3 linked regions of the Homo sapiens genome follow. The protein of the gene in region 1 purifies or fractionates together with the protein of each later gene. This does not show direct contact. Each region holds a gene or a part of one and is shown on either strand. Other genes may lie near its edges. The genes, in order: MITF, KLHL20 and RBPJ.

What was found.
Region 2: the proteins of MITF (region 1) and KLHL20 purify together in Homo sapiens (affinity purification with mass spectrometry; one large-scale study listed by BioGRID and IntAct). This does not show direct contact.
Region 3: the proteins of MITF (region 1) and RBPJ purify together in Homo sapiens (co-immunoprecipitation; one study listed by IntAct). This does not show direct contact.

What each region holds. Positions count from the first base shown.
Region 1 is NC_000003.12:69,878,872-69,882,608, reverse strand, and holds part of MITF (microphthalmia-associated transcription factor), read right to left. Parts: intron 3,476-3,737; coding exon 3,226-3,475; intron 1-3,225. UniProt on the Homo sapiens protein: Transcription factor that acts as a master regulator of melanocyte survival and differentiation as well as melanosome biogenesis.
Region 2 is NC_000001.11:173,752,855-173,756,591, forward strand, and holds part of KLHL20 (kelch-like protein 20), read left to right. Parts: intron 1-358; coding exon 359-453; intron 454-3,068; coding exon 3,069-3,184; intron 3,185-3,737. UniProt on the Homo sapiens protein: Substrate-specific adapter of a BCR (BTB-CUL3-RBX1) E3 ubiquitin-protein ligase complex involved in interferon response and anterograde Golgi to endosome transport.
Region 3 is NC_000004.12:26,432,219-26,435,423, reverse strand, and holds the end of RBPJ (recombining binding protein suppressor of hairless), read right to left. Parts: 3' UTR 501-3,205; downstream 1-500. UniProt on the Homo sapiens protein: Transcriptional regulator that plays a central role in Notch signaling, a signaling pathway involved in cell-cell communication that regulates a broad spectrum of cell-fate determinations.

The sequences.
Region 1 (3,737 bases):
GAAGAAACTGATTCCATTAATGGTTCTTGATGACTTTTTTTTTGTTGTTGTTAATTCACAACTCAAAATACAGGGTGTGTTCACCATTACAAAAAAATGCATTATGCACTCCAGGTGTTGGTTAATTTATGGTAAAAGAGCATCCTTAAATTACAATACCCAATTGGGTAAGGTTGTTCTTAAAAAACTTGGAGAATATCTTTACTATGTAAATATATAGCAATAAGACTCATGATTCCATGTCCCCAAAAATGAAAATCAATATGAAGGAAAATTCATATATTATTAAATCAATATAGAAACCAGAGGCTAATCTTACAAAGATTCATGAACTTACTCACGGCACAATGACTATACGTTGAGGAATGAGTGGTGCAGATTTTCGATCTCTAACCCAAAATCTGACTAGTCCTAAGTTTACCAGATGTCAATAACTTTTAAACATGCTTTATAAAGCTTCATATTTTAAATTTTACTCTGCCAAAAAAAGGGATTAACCTGAAAACACTGCTTTAGCTTTTTGAAATCAGTCATTCATCCAGATAGCAGAATGTTGGTAACTTAACTTTGTGTGTGTATGAAAACTAAACTATGACCTTTCTTCCCTCTGGTTCTTACAAACAACTTGGGAGACGGAGAGATTTAACCAGATTCTCTAGTGCATGCAAGTGTGACTAATTGTATACATCTACCTCCACTGAGAAGCAGGCATGTTCTGTTTTAGCAAGTTAAACCTTTAAAAATTAAGCGAATTTACTCAGGCCATACTATGAGAAAATATTTATTCAATATAATCTGTATCATAATGCACTCAATTAGTATACTTGGTATTACCATTCTTTGAAAATATATATTCATGGAGAAATAAATGGTCCAAGATTAAGCATATTAACTGTTTTGCTATTAACCACTTACTTCACAAAATTATGCTTATGATTTAAAAACTATAAAAAAGAAAAAAAAAACCACCTTTCTCTCACTTATCTTTCTATAATGTTTCATAATACTTTTATACACAAAATTTTGAAAATAAGCCAACTATATTTATGAAGTCCTAAGTCTTTAAGTATCTGAAGCAATCACTTATATGATATTCTCTTTAAAAATGTTATCTGATTTTCTTAAAATATTGTCTTAATAAAATCGTGTATTCTTATTTGTTTCTTCATTTAAGAATACCAAAATTTGTCTAAATAGCTATCAAACCTAACCATATAGCTATGGCAATAATTCCTTATTTTTATTTATATGACATAGTTTACTAGTTTATATAACTGAAATATAAAAAAGCAGAAGTTAAATAGACAGGAACTATATTCAGAGTGAAAGAGAAATTTACCTAATACTTATTTTTAGTTAGAGTATGTCGTCCAGCTGTAACAATTTATTTGTGCTTTAACTTTGGACATTTTTCTGGCATACATAAGTTAGGGGTTGTAGCTCAATCCAGTGTCACCAGGACACAGCAACATATAAAAATATTGGTATGTTATTCAAACAACTTAATGTAGATTTTAACTTTAATCATTTTCAAAAATAATATATTTACAGTGACAAAAGCATTTAGAAATTATGCTCACTTTTAAGATAATCTGGAAATGATGTTTCAACACATTTTCATTTGGGTAATTTCCTCTCTGTTGTAGCTGCCTTAACAGGAATATTGATTTTAATAAAAATTCTTTAACATTACCTTCAGTTGGATATAACCCACTAGTAGCCCAAATCCATGGCAACTCTTCTAAAATTTGCCCTACAGATTATAAAGGTGAACTATTATGATGAATAAAATAGACATATTTCTCCACATCTTGTTACTATTTAATTCATACAATTTTAAATAACCTAAGGTATACACAATGATTATCACCCCTGCAGGCATGAGACAACAACATAAATCTTAAATAATTCTTAAATCTATAAAAACTTAGTGATCATATCAATTTTCACCCAAGCAGAACAGAAAGATTCAATGCATCATCTACTCCAGAGAGAAAACCTTGAGTTAACTGACGGGTAAAAAAAGAAAGAGGAAAAAATCCATTAACTGTGGCAATATCCAGAATTTCAAACAATCACATTAGAGTAAAACTTTATGCTAAACTATTTGTATCTTTTTTCCCTAACCCAATTTCAGTTGGTTTCTTCATCCGAGTTCCATTATTGCATCACTATATTTTAAGTCTTCGCAAATAAAAAATAATTGACTCTTGATTTGTTTTTTAAAGAATCTCTTTCCTACTTCCTGGTAAGGTTCACAGATTGATTCCTGATTATAACACATCATCTCTCTATTTACTTTAATAGTAAACTTTAAATAATGGGAGACATTTTTTCTGTGCACATGGATGAATGCAAAAACCAATAATGAATCACCGGTCTGTAAAGTTCACATTGTTTAATGAACAGTAACACTTGAGACTTTTCAGAATTAGGTGAGCAGGTACTAAAATAAAAAAACTAAAAATAAGGAAGTTCCTCTACTTTCCTTTTAACTTTCCTTGAATCAGTCATATTTAAGAACTGAAATGTTTATTCTTAAACAAGGAGTATCTCCCTATGTGATGTGGAAGACACGTGTGAGATGGAATTCTATTCTTAGACTTGTTACAATTTTCCTTAGTAATTAGGAAGCTATATGTCCCTAATCGAATGATGCTAACAAGCTCCTGCAGTTTCTACTCTAGCAAGAAATCAAAGAGACCCAAAGCAGACAACTCACTTCAGTAAAAGGATTATGTAGTCTGGTTATCAAAGCGCAGAAAGCTCTTCTTCAATCTTATATGTGAAGAGCTCTCTAAAACAGTCAGATTTTACAACCAATATTACATACTAAATAAAAAGAAAAGTAAAGAGTGGCTATGGAAGGTATTTAAGAGAAAAATATTTAAGATACACAAATTATCAGAAGAGGCCCACCTCAGATAATTCTGGTTTTGAAACTTTCCCAAAGAAAGATGTCATCACAACAAACATGTATTCCTACTTGCAATTTCTCATGGAACATTGACTCCCACCATTTACTGATTGTTACTATTACAGTTACAATGCGTTTGCATCCTTCTTTTAAAATATAAAGCCACGTAAGAATTAAGGGAGTTGGAGTTTTCAAATATAATTCTGAAGGGTCAGTCTAACAAAATACATATTCAGATAAACAAAACACCTAGCAAATGGAAAATGGAAGAGAGTTTGGTCCAACCAACAAGAGCAACACTCACGTACCTTAAGGACTTCCATCGGCACCTGCGTGGCAGAGGGAAGGGTGGTGGGCACACTGACGTTTATGGCTGGTGTCTGACTCACGGGCACTCTCTGTTGCATGAACTGGGCCGCCTGCAGCTTCTGCTGCTGCTCCCTGCGCTCCTGCTCCTGCATCTGCTCACGCATGAGTTGCTGGCGTAGCAAGATGCGTGATGTCATACTGGAGGAGCTTATCGGAGGCTTGGAGGCCCCAGGATGCTCGGCGGAACTGCTGTGGGAAAACCAAAATGCATACAACATTTAGTTTCCTAATGAGACCCTTCGTTTGCACTTTGGGGGTATCCTAAATTGCACCAAACTATAAAATGAGTCTGCGCAAATATAATCAAGTCACAGAATGGTACTCCACATAATTGAAAATCAAGAGGTGACAGGATTTAAGTCATTAGTAGTTGAATTAAAATAAGTCAGCTTGATTGCATCAAGGCATTTTTATCAGGCGGCTTAATTTTTTTAATTTTTTTTTTTTTACA
Region 2 (3,737 bases), on another chromosome or scaffold:
GATGAGAGCTCATGCCTTTAATAGTGTTTATTGGCTGGGTGCAGTGGTACAAGCCCATAATCCCAGCACTTGGGAGGATAAGGCAGGCAGATCACTTGAGCTCAGGTGTTTGAGACCAGCCTGGGCAGCGTGGTGATTCCCCGTTTCTACAAAAAAAAAAATACAAAAATTTGTTGGGCATGGTGGCATGCACTTGTAGTTGCAGCTACTCTGGAGGCTGAGGTAGGCACATCACTTGAGCCCAGGAGATTGAGGCTGCAGTGACCTACGATCATGCCACTGTACTCCAGCCTAGGCAACAGAGTAAGACCTATCTCAAAATTAATTAATTAAAATAATGGTGTTTATTTTCTCATAGGTGCTGCAGCATGTTCGTTTGCCTTTGCTTAGTCCCAAGTTCCTGGTCGGCACAGTAGGCTCTGATCCCCTCATCAAAAGTGATGAAGAATGCAGGTATGAGTGACCCTGGATGGGAAAAATCAACAACTAAGCATTCCTATTTTTTCCTAATTTCCTTATTTGTATTGCTTCCTAAATATTGTATTTTGCAGAGCTGAAACCAGGGCTTTAATTTAACAAGGTTTTCTTCTGGGCTAGAGTCAAGAGGAGGAAAAGAAGAAGAGAGAACTGAACTTCCAGTGTTTCATTCCATTAGGTTTTTATGTGTGGTGCTTACTGGTGTAGAAGTGGCAATAAAAAGGTAGATTTCCAAGATTTTAATGCAGGCTTGAATTTAAAGAGTCAATTCTCTGCTAATATTTTTTTTTTCCTTGAGATAATTAAATAATGCTGTTGACTCTGTCAATGAACATTTTTTCCTTCCATCACATATGTCTGGTTGGGGAATAGAATCAGCCTTGCTTTCTAAATTGTGGACAGAGTTGAAGATCTGCCACTTTCTAAAACAGCTGTAGAAAGATTTTCACTAAAACTAGGTGAAGCAGTTTCCAGAGGTTTTTTGACGAAAGAAACTCTTAACTACTTTTTCAAAGGGGGGGAAAAAAGCAACCTATTTTACTAGGCTGTCTTTAAAGTATATACAAAATGTAATAAATTACATTCCCAATTTGACAGATTGTAAGATTTAGGTTCAAATCTGAAATCATCTGGGATTGTTAACCATTTTTCCCCAGCATGTCCCAAATATAAAAGTGAAAGAGAAAATCCATACTCAGAACTTTGTAAACTACACTGACCTTTGAACCTCCCTTGGTGATTAAAGACATTTAGAATGATCCCTGATTCTAGAATGGTGGTAGGACATGTAGATTCACTTGCATTTCTTCTATAAACTAAAGCCTGTTCTTTTAACAGGAGAGGCTGGAGGGGATTTTAGATGTTTCTATTTTATTTTATTGTATCTTTTTTATATTAATCATTCTTCATTTTTCAGTTTACCATAGACTAGAGTTAAACTAGATTTTTGTATTCTATATTTAAAACACAGACAGGCCGGGCGCAGTGGCTCACGCCTGTAATCCCAGCACTTTGGGAGGCCGAGGTGGGTGTATCACCTGAGGTCAGGAGTTCGAGACCAGCCTCAACATGGAGAAACTGCATCTGTACTAAAAATACAAAAATTAGCTGGACATGGTGGTGCATGCCTGTAATCCCAGCTATTCAGGAGGCTGAGGCAGGAGAATTGCTTGAACCTGGGAGGTGGAGGTTGCGGTGAGCCAAGATCACACCATTGCTCTCCAGCCTGGGCAACAAAAGTGAAACTCAGTCTCAAAAAAAAAAAAAAAAAACACACAGACAAATGGCAATTAATTCTCCTAAATATTTGCAGTAGCAAAAAGGAAAACCATGTACATTATACATGCTGAAATCTGAAGAAATAATACATAGATGCCCTCCTCCATTAAAAGTAAATCAGATTGTATTGTACTGATTCTGATGCAGAAAGTAAAAGTACTTATGAAGTCATATTTAAAAGAAGACCCTTCCTGATATCCTAACTTCTTTTTGCTGCAGTTTCTTCCTCTATAAAGTGAGGATGATAATAGTGCCTATTCCATAAGGCTGTTGTGAAGATTAAATGAGTTTATATCTATTAAGCACTTAAAACCAGGACTAGCACATAGCTGTAAGTGTTGTTACTACCATTAATTTTGTGTTGGTTTGCTCAATATTATAGCTCTATAGTATTATTTGTAGGAACCCTCAAATGACCTAACAAGCTATTAGGAGATCAAAGTCTTTGTCTTTTTTTTTTTTTTTTTTGAGACGGAGTCTCGCTCTGTTGCCAGGCTGGAGTGCAGTGGTGCAATCTCGACTCACTGCAACCTCTGCCTCCCAAGTTCAACCGATTCTCCTGCTTCAGCCTCCTGAGTAGCTGGGACTACAGGCGCGTACCACCACACCCAGCTACTTTTTGTATTTTTAGTAGAGACGGGGTTTCACCATATTGGCCAGGATGGTCTCAATCTCTTGACCTCATGATCCACCGCCCCTCAGCCTCCCAAAGTGCTGGGATTACAGGCGTGAGCCACTGCAAAGTCATTACATGTGTAATTACTAGACTCTTCTCTTAAAGTGTCTTAACAAGACAGGAAATATGTCTCGGTAGACTTGTTGAGAGTAAACCATTCATATGTTACCAGATAGCAAATTTGTGGCAGTACAGTGTTTCTTTTCAGCAATCCGATTTTTGACCCAGTTTTATTACTTTAATCTAGCAAATAACTATTGCCCTGGCTGATGTGCTACCTTGCTAATATCTTGCAGAATCTAATAAAATTTATTAAAAAGTAGTAACTCTGCAGTGTGGTAATCAAATTGTAATTTTTACTTTTCTATAAGTTATTGTTGGCTGTAAGCATGTTGAGCTTTAGGCTAAATTTGCAGTGAGACATGAGTCATGATGGAAATACCAATCAATTCACAACTCAGTTTGACTGGCATTATTGGTTTCATGTTTGTGCCAATTTTAATATTGGCTGGCATTCATGATTTGGTTTGATTTATGCTTGCTTCCCTTTGCCAACCTATATATTCCTAAACTACATTGGGACTTAACTAACAATGTAATTTAGATATTTGGAATAAAGGCAGAATTTTTTCTACAGAGACTTGGTAGATGAGGCTAAAAACTACCTCCTATTGCCGCAAGAACGACCACTAATGCAAGGACCAAGGACGAGACCACGGAAACCTATCCGATGTGGGGAAGTACTCTTTGCAGGTTTGGATCTTAATATACTGTTAGTAAATTGAGTATTTTCCCAGGTGAGAAACTGTCATTTGAAAAATCCTTTGGACAATTATGATATTTACTGTCATAAGACACAAATAATAAGTCAGCATATAGCTTGACTCATAACCCATGATTCCACACTGATATACTCCAAAAGAGTGCTCTATTCTTTTTTCTCATTCAACACCTTTAATATCTATTTTTATATAAATCCAAAAATGTTGGCTGGTCACAGTGGCTCATGCCTATACAGCTTTCTGGAGGCCAGGCGTTTGAGACCAGCCTGGGCAATATAGGGAGGCCCCATCTTTACAAAAAATAAGAAAAACAATTGGCTGAGTGTGGTAGTGCATGTCTGTAGTCCCAGCTACTTGGGAGGCTGAGACAGGAGGATGGCTTGAGCCTAGGAGGTCAAGGCTGCAGTGAGCTGTGATTGCACCACTGTACTCCAGCCTGGGGAACAGAACAAGATCCTGTCTCAAAAAATAAAAAATAAAAATGTCGTGCAGTAGATGTTTTGTTGAAATGAGTCACATGCATT
Region 3 (3,205 bases), on another chromosome or scaffold:
GCACTCCAGCTCAGGGGCGACAGAGCAAGACCCCGTCTCAAAAAAAAAAACTTATGTAACTTCCCCATTTAACTTTGTTTCATATTAAAGAATACTATCCCCACTTCTAGGACCCACCCCCACCCCTCAAAGGCAAACGATTATGTGTTCCTTCCTATAGCAGACAAAATGACCATCTTATATTGGAAAAGTAAGTTATTGCTAAGTAATATTCTCAAATTTTGTTGCAATCAGCTTTAAATGATTCTGATTTGAGAGATATGACCCTTGAGTGACAAAGCCCATTTCACCATTTACACAGGGAAAAAAAATCTCTTTAAAGCACTATATAGTTAAAAACATTGACAAGGAAATTAAATTAGTAGAGCTATCACTTTGATGTGATGTACATGGTAAGATTGTAAATACACCAACTATAATATAGAATTTAATTTTATCTTTATGAAGTATTCTGAAATAAAAGACGATAATACATGCATCAGGCACATTCGACAGAAGACTTTTACAATGGTTTACATTTCCTTTTTATTTATTCCTTGAAACTGCTCGTATTGCAAGTTTTTCACGGATGAAATATGGAACTGAGCAGATTCTTTTTTTCTACAAAATTATGGTATAAACTTGCTCAATTTTCTATCTTATTGCTAATAAACCTTACAGGCGCACAGTTTGTAAAATAAACCCCTTAAGGACTGAATGCGTAGAGCATGCTGCAAGGTACAAGAAATAAGCTAAAAATGAGCATATAAACCTACATCTGGACCAACACAGTACTGAATGCTGGCAAACATTTATCACAACACAGGGGAAAATTAACAAAAGGAGATACAGTTCAGTCCTGAAAGGGTTAAACAGAAACCCTAATATATTATTGTTTCTAACCATCCATCCCACATTACAGTGCTTGAAAACAAAGTCATAAGTCTGGCACAGAAAATTACACACATTTGTTCAGTACTTATCAGAAACACAGCTGCTTTTGCAATCAAAGTAACTTGGTTACTAACTGAACAGCATTTTGTTTCAAAAGGAACCTCCTCCCCAGTGGATTTTCTGGTTAGCATGACTAGTTAGGTTAGTTCTCAAAAATGGCATTGGAAGTTTTTTGTGAAAGCACAGATGGTACCAGTTTCATTAAAAACAATAAAACAAAACAAAACAAAAAAACTAACCAGTTATGATTGCAGATAAGTCTGTGCAGTAAGAGTGACAAACATTTCACGATTAAGTCATGTATAAACATGCCTTTAATTGCCACAGTTTAAAGAAAGTGAGCAGCAAATTTAGATAGTATACTAGTGTTCAACGCTGAAATCACTCAAAATATAAAGGGCATTTTTAAGGCTTTTAGCTTGCCTTCCCAATCTATGTGATAAATTAAATGGAACAAATAAAAACATATTGGATCAGAGACTCAGCTTCTATGTGTATGTTTAGAAACTGCATAGTCATGAGAGCATAAGATACATTTCTAAAACAGAATTTTTTAAAAATTCAAACATACTATAACTGAAGCACTCACCATTCTAATAAGAGAGTCTTTCTGAGGGTAAATGACCAGCATGTCTAATAATGCCATCACTGGAGGAGGGCACACAGTCTACTATAACCAGAGGACAAGGTTCCTATAAATTACATACTGAAAATGATTCACAAAACCATGAAAGAAAAAATGTAAGCAGCTGACAAAAGAACTACTGATAAACAATAAGCTACAATGGACAAATCATTTCACTCTTTAGTCTGTGGTATGAGAATGGCCAAAAATAGGTGGGGAAAAATGCCTGTATAAGTACATTCTTGGACTTTTCAAAAAAAGAAAAGAAAAGGGTTTACAGTATAATATTTCAATTATCTTACGGAAAGAAACTATCAAAATAAAACATACATGTTTGTTAAAAAAACACAAGTTCATTTTAATAAGGTCATGAACTTGAAAAATTATTTTTGAGCTACAAAAATGGGTAAGGAATAGTTTGTTCTTCAAAAGTATCTCTTTTGTTATTGGTTAATTTAATATGATTCCTTAACTAAATACCAAACCTAGGAAGTGGAGGAAACTTGTGGCCGTTAAAGCAAAGCAGCACTAGGAACATGTCCATGCTCTGAACAAAAGCACTGTGTAATGATTCCTGCCATGACTCCATAGAGAGGAATAACTACTACTCAGAAATAAGTGGTCTGTAAGAAAGAGACAGTGAACAATTACAACAAAGAAAGATAAGGCCACAATGAGTTCTGCCCTTGATCACTGAAACAGATTTAAGGTGTGAGGCAGGATTAGCTTATAAGAGAGAAGTGAGTGATTGGAGCAGATTTGAAGAAAAAAGGCGATATAGAATAAAATGCAGCCTGGGGGTGATTAAAAAGGCTTGCAGTAAGAGAAAACCGCAATAACTGATTTAACCACCTAACGTGCTTTACAAATGACCTTCCCCTTGAAAACTGAGGAAAAGGCGATTTAAAGATGTTAGGAAGAATATTTACAGTGGCATAGTCTGAGCATAGAGTGAGTGATGAAGACAGCAAAGCTGGAAAAAAAATGCTACTAATAATAATTTCTAAAAAGTCTATTAATGGAAACTTTTTCAAAACAGCCCAGGACACCAGAAAGACAATGTTCTGTAGGGAAACACTGTAGGAAGTTACAGTTTTGCATTCATAAGGTACTGTGGCTCCTGTTTTATGGGACAGTAAAAGCTTACCACAATCTAGAGGTAGTTTTTACTCTAAGAGGGATGATTGTATTACTAGACTGTGTTGTATAACATTACACACGTGGTTCCTGTACTAAATGTAGCCCAATGAGTCTGCTGCAATTTCGAAGAAACCAAACAAAGGCATAAACAAAGTTCAGGAATGAAAGCACGGTAAAACCGGCGGGGTTAGCAAGCAAGGCCAACCTACAACCCTGAATGCAACCAAATCTCAACTGAAAAGAAAAGAAACATTTTCTGAGTTAGGAGACATTTGTGGAGATGCTCAGTACTGGAAAAGAGAAAACAAACAAACAAAAAAGGCAGAGAAAAAAATGAAAACATAAGTTACATTTGCATTTTATAATCTTACAACTATCTGTTTCTAAAGTACTGTCTTCCAGCTATTTTAGTTGATCATCTAATAAAAGCATCTTATGTTTTAAGATTACAATGATGTTCTGGCTAGGCTACCCCCTCCAACCCCCCAAAAAAGTAAAGATAATAAA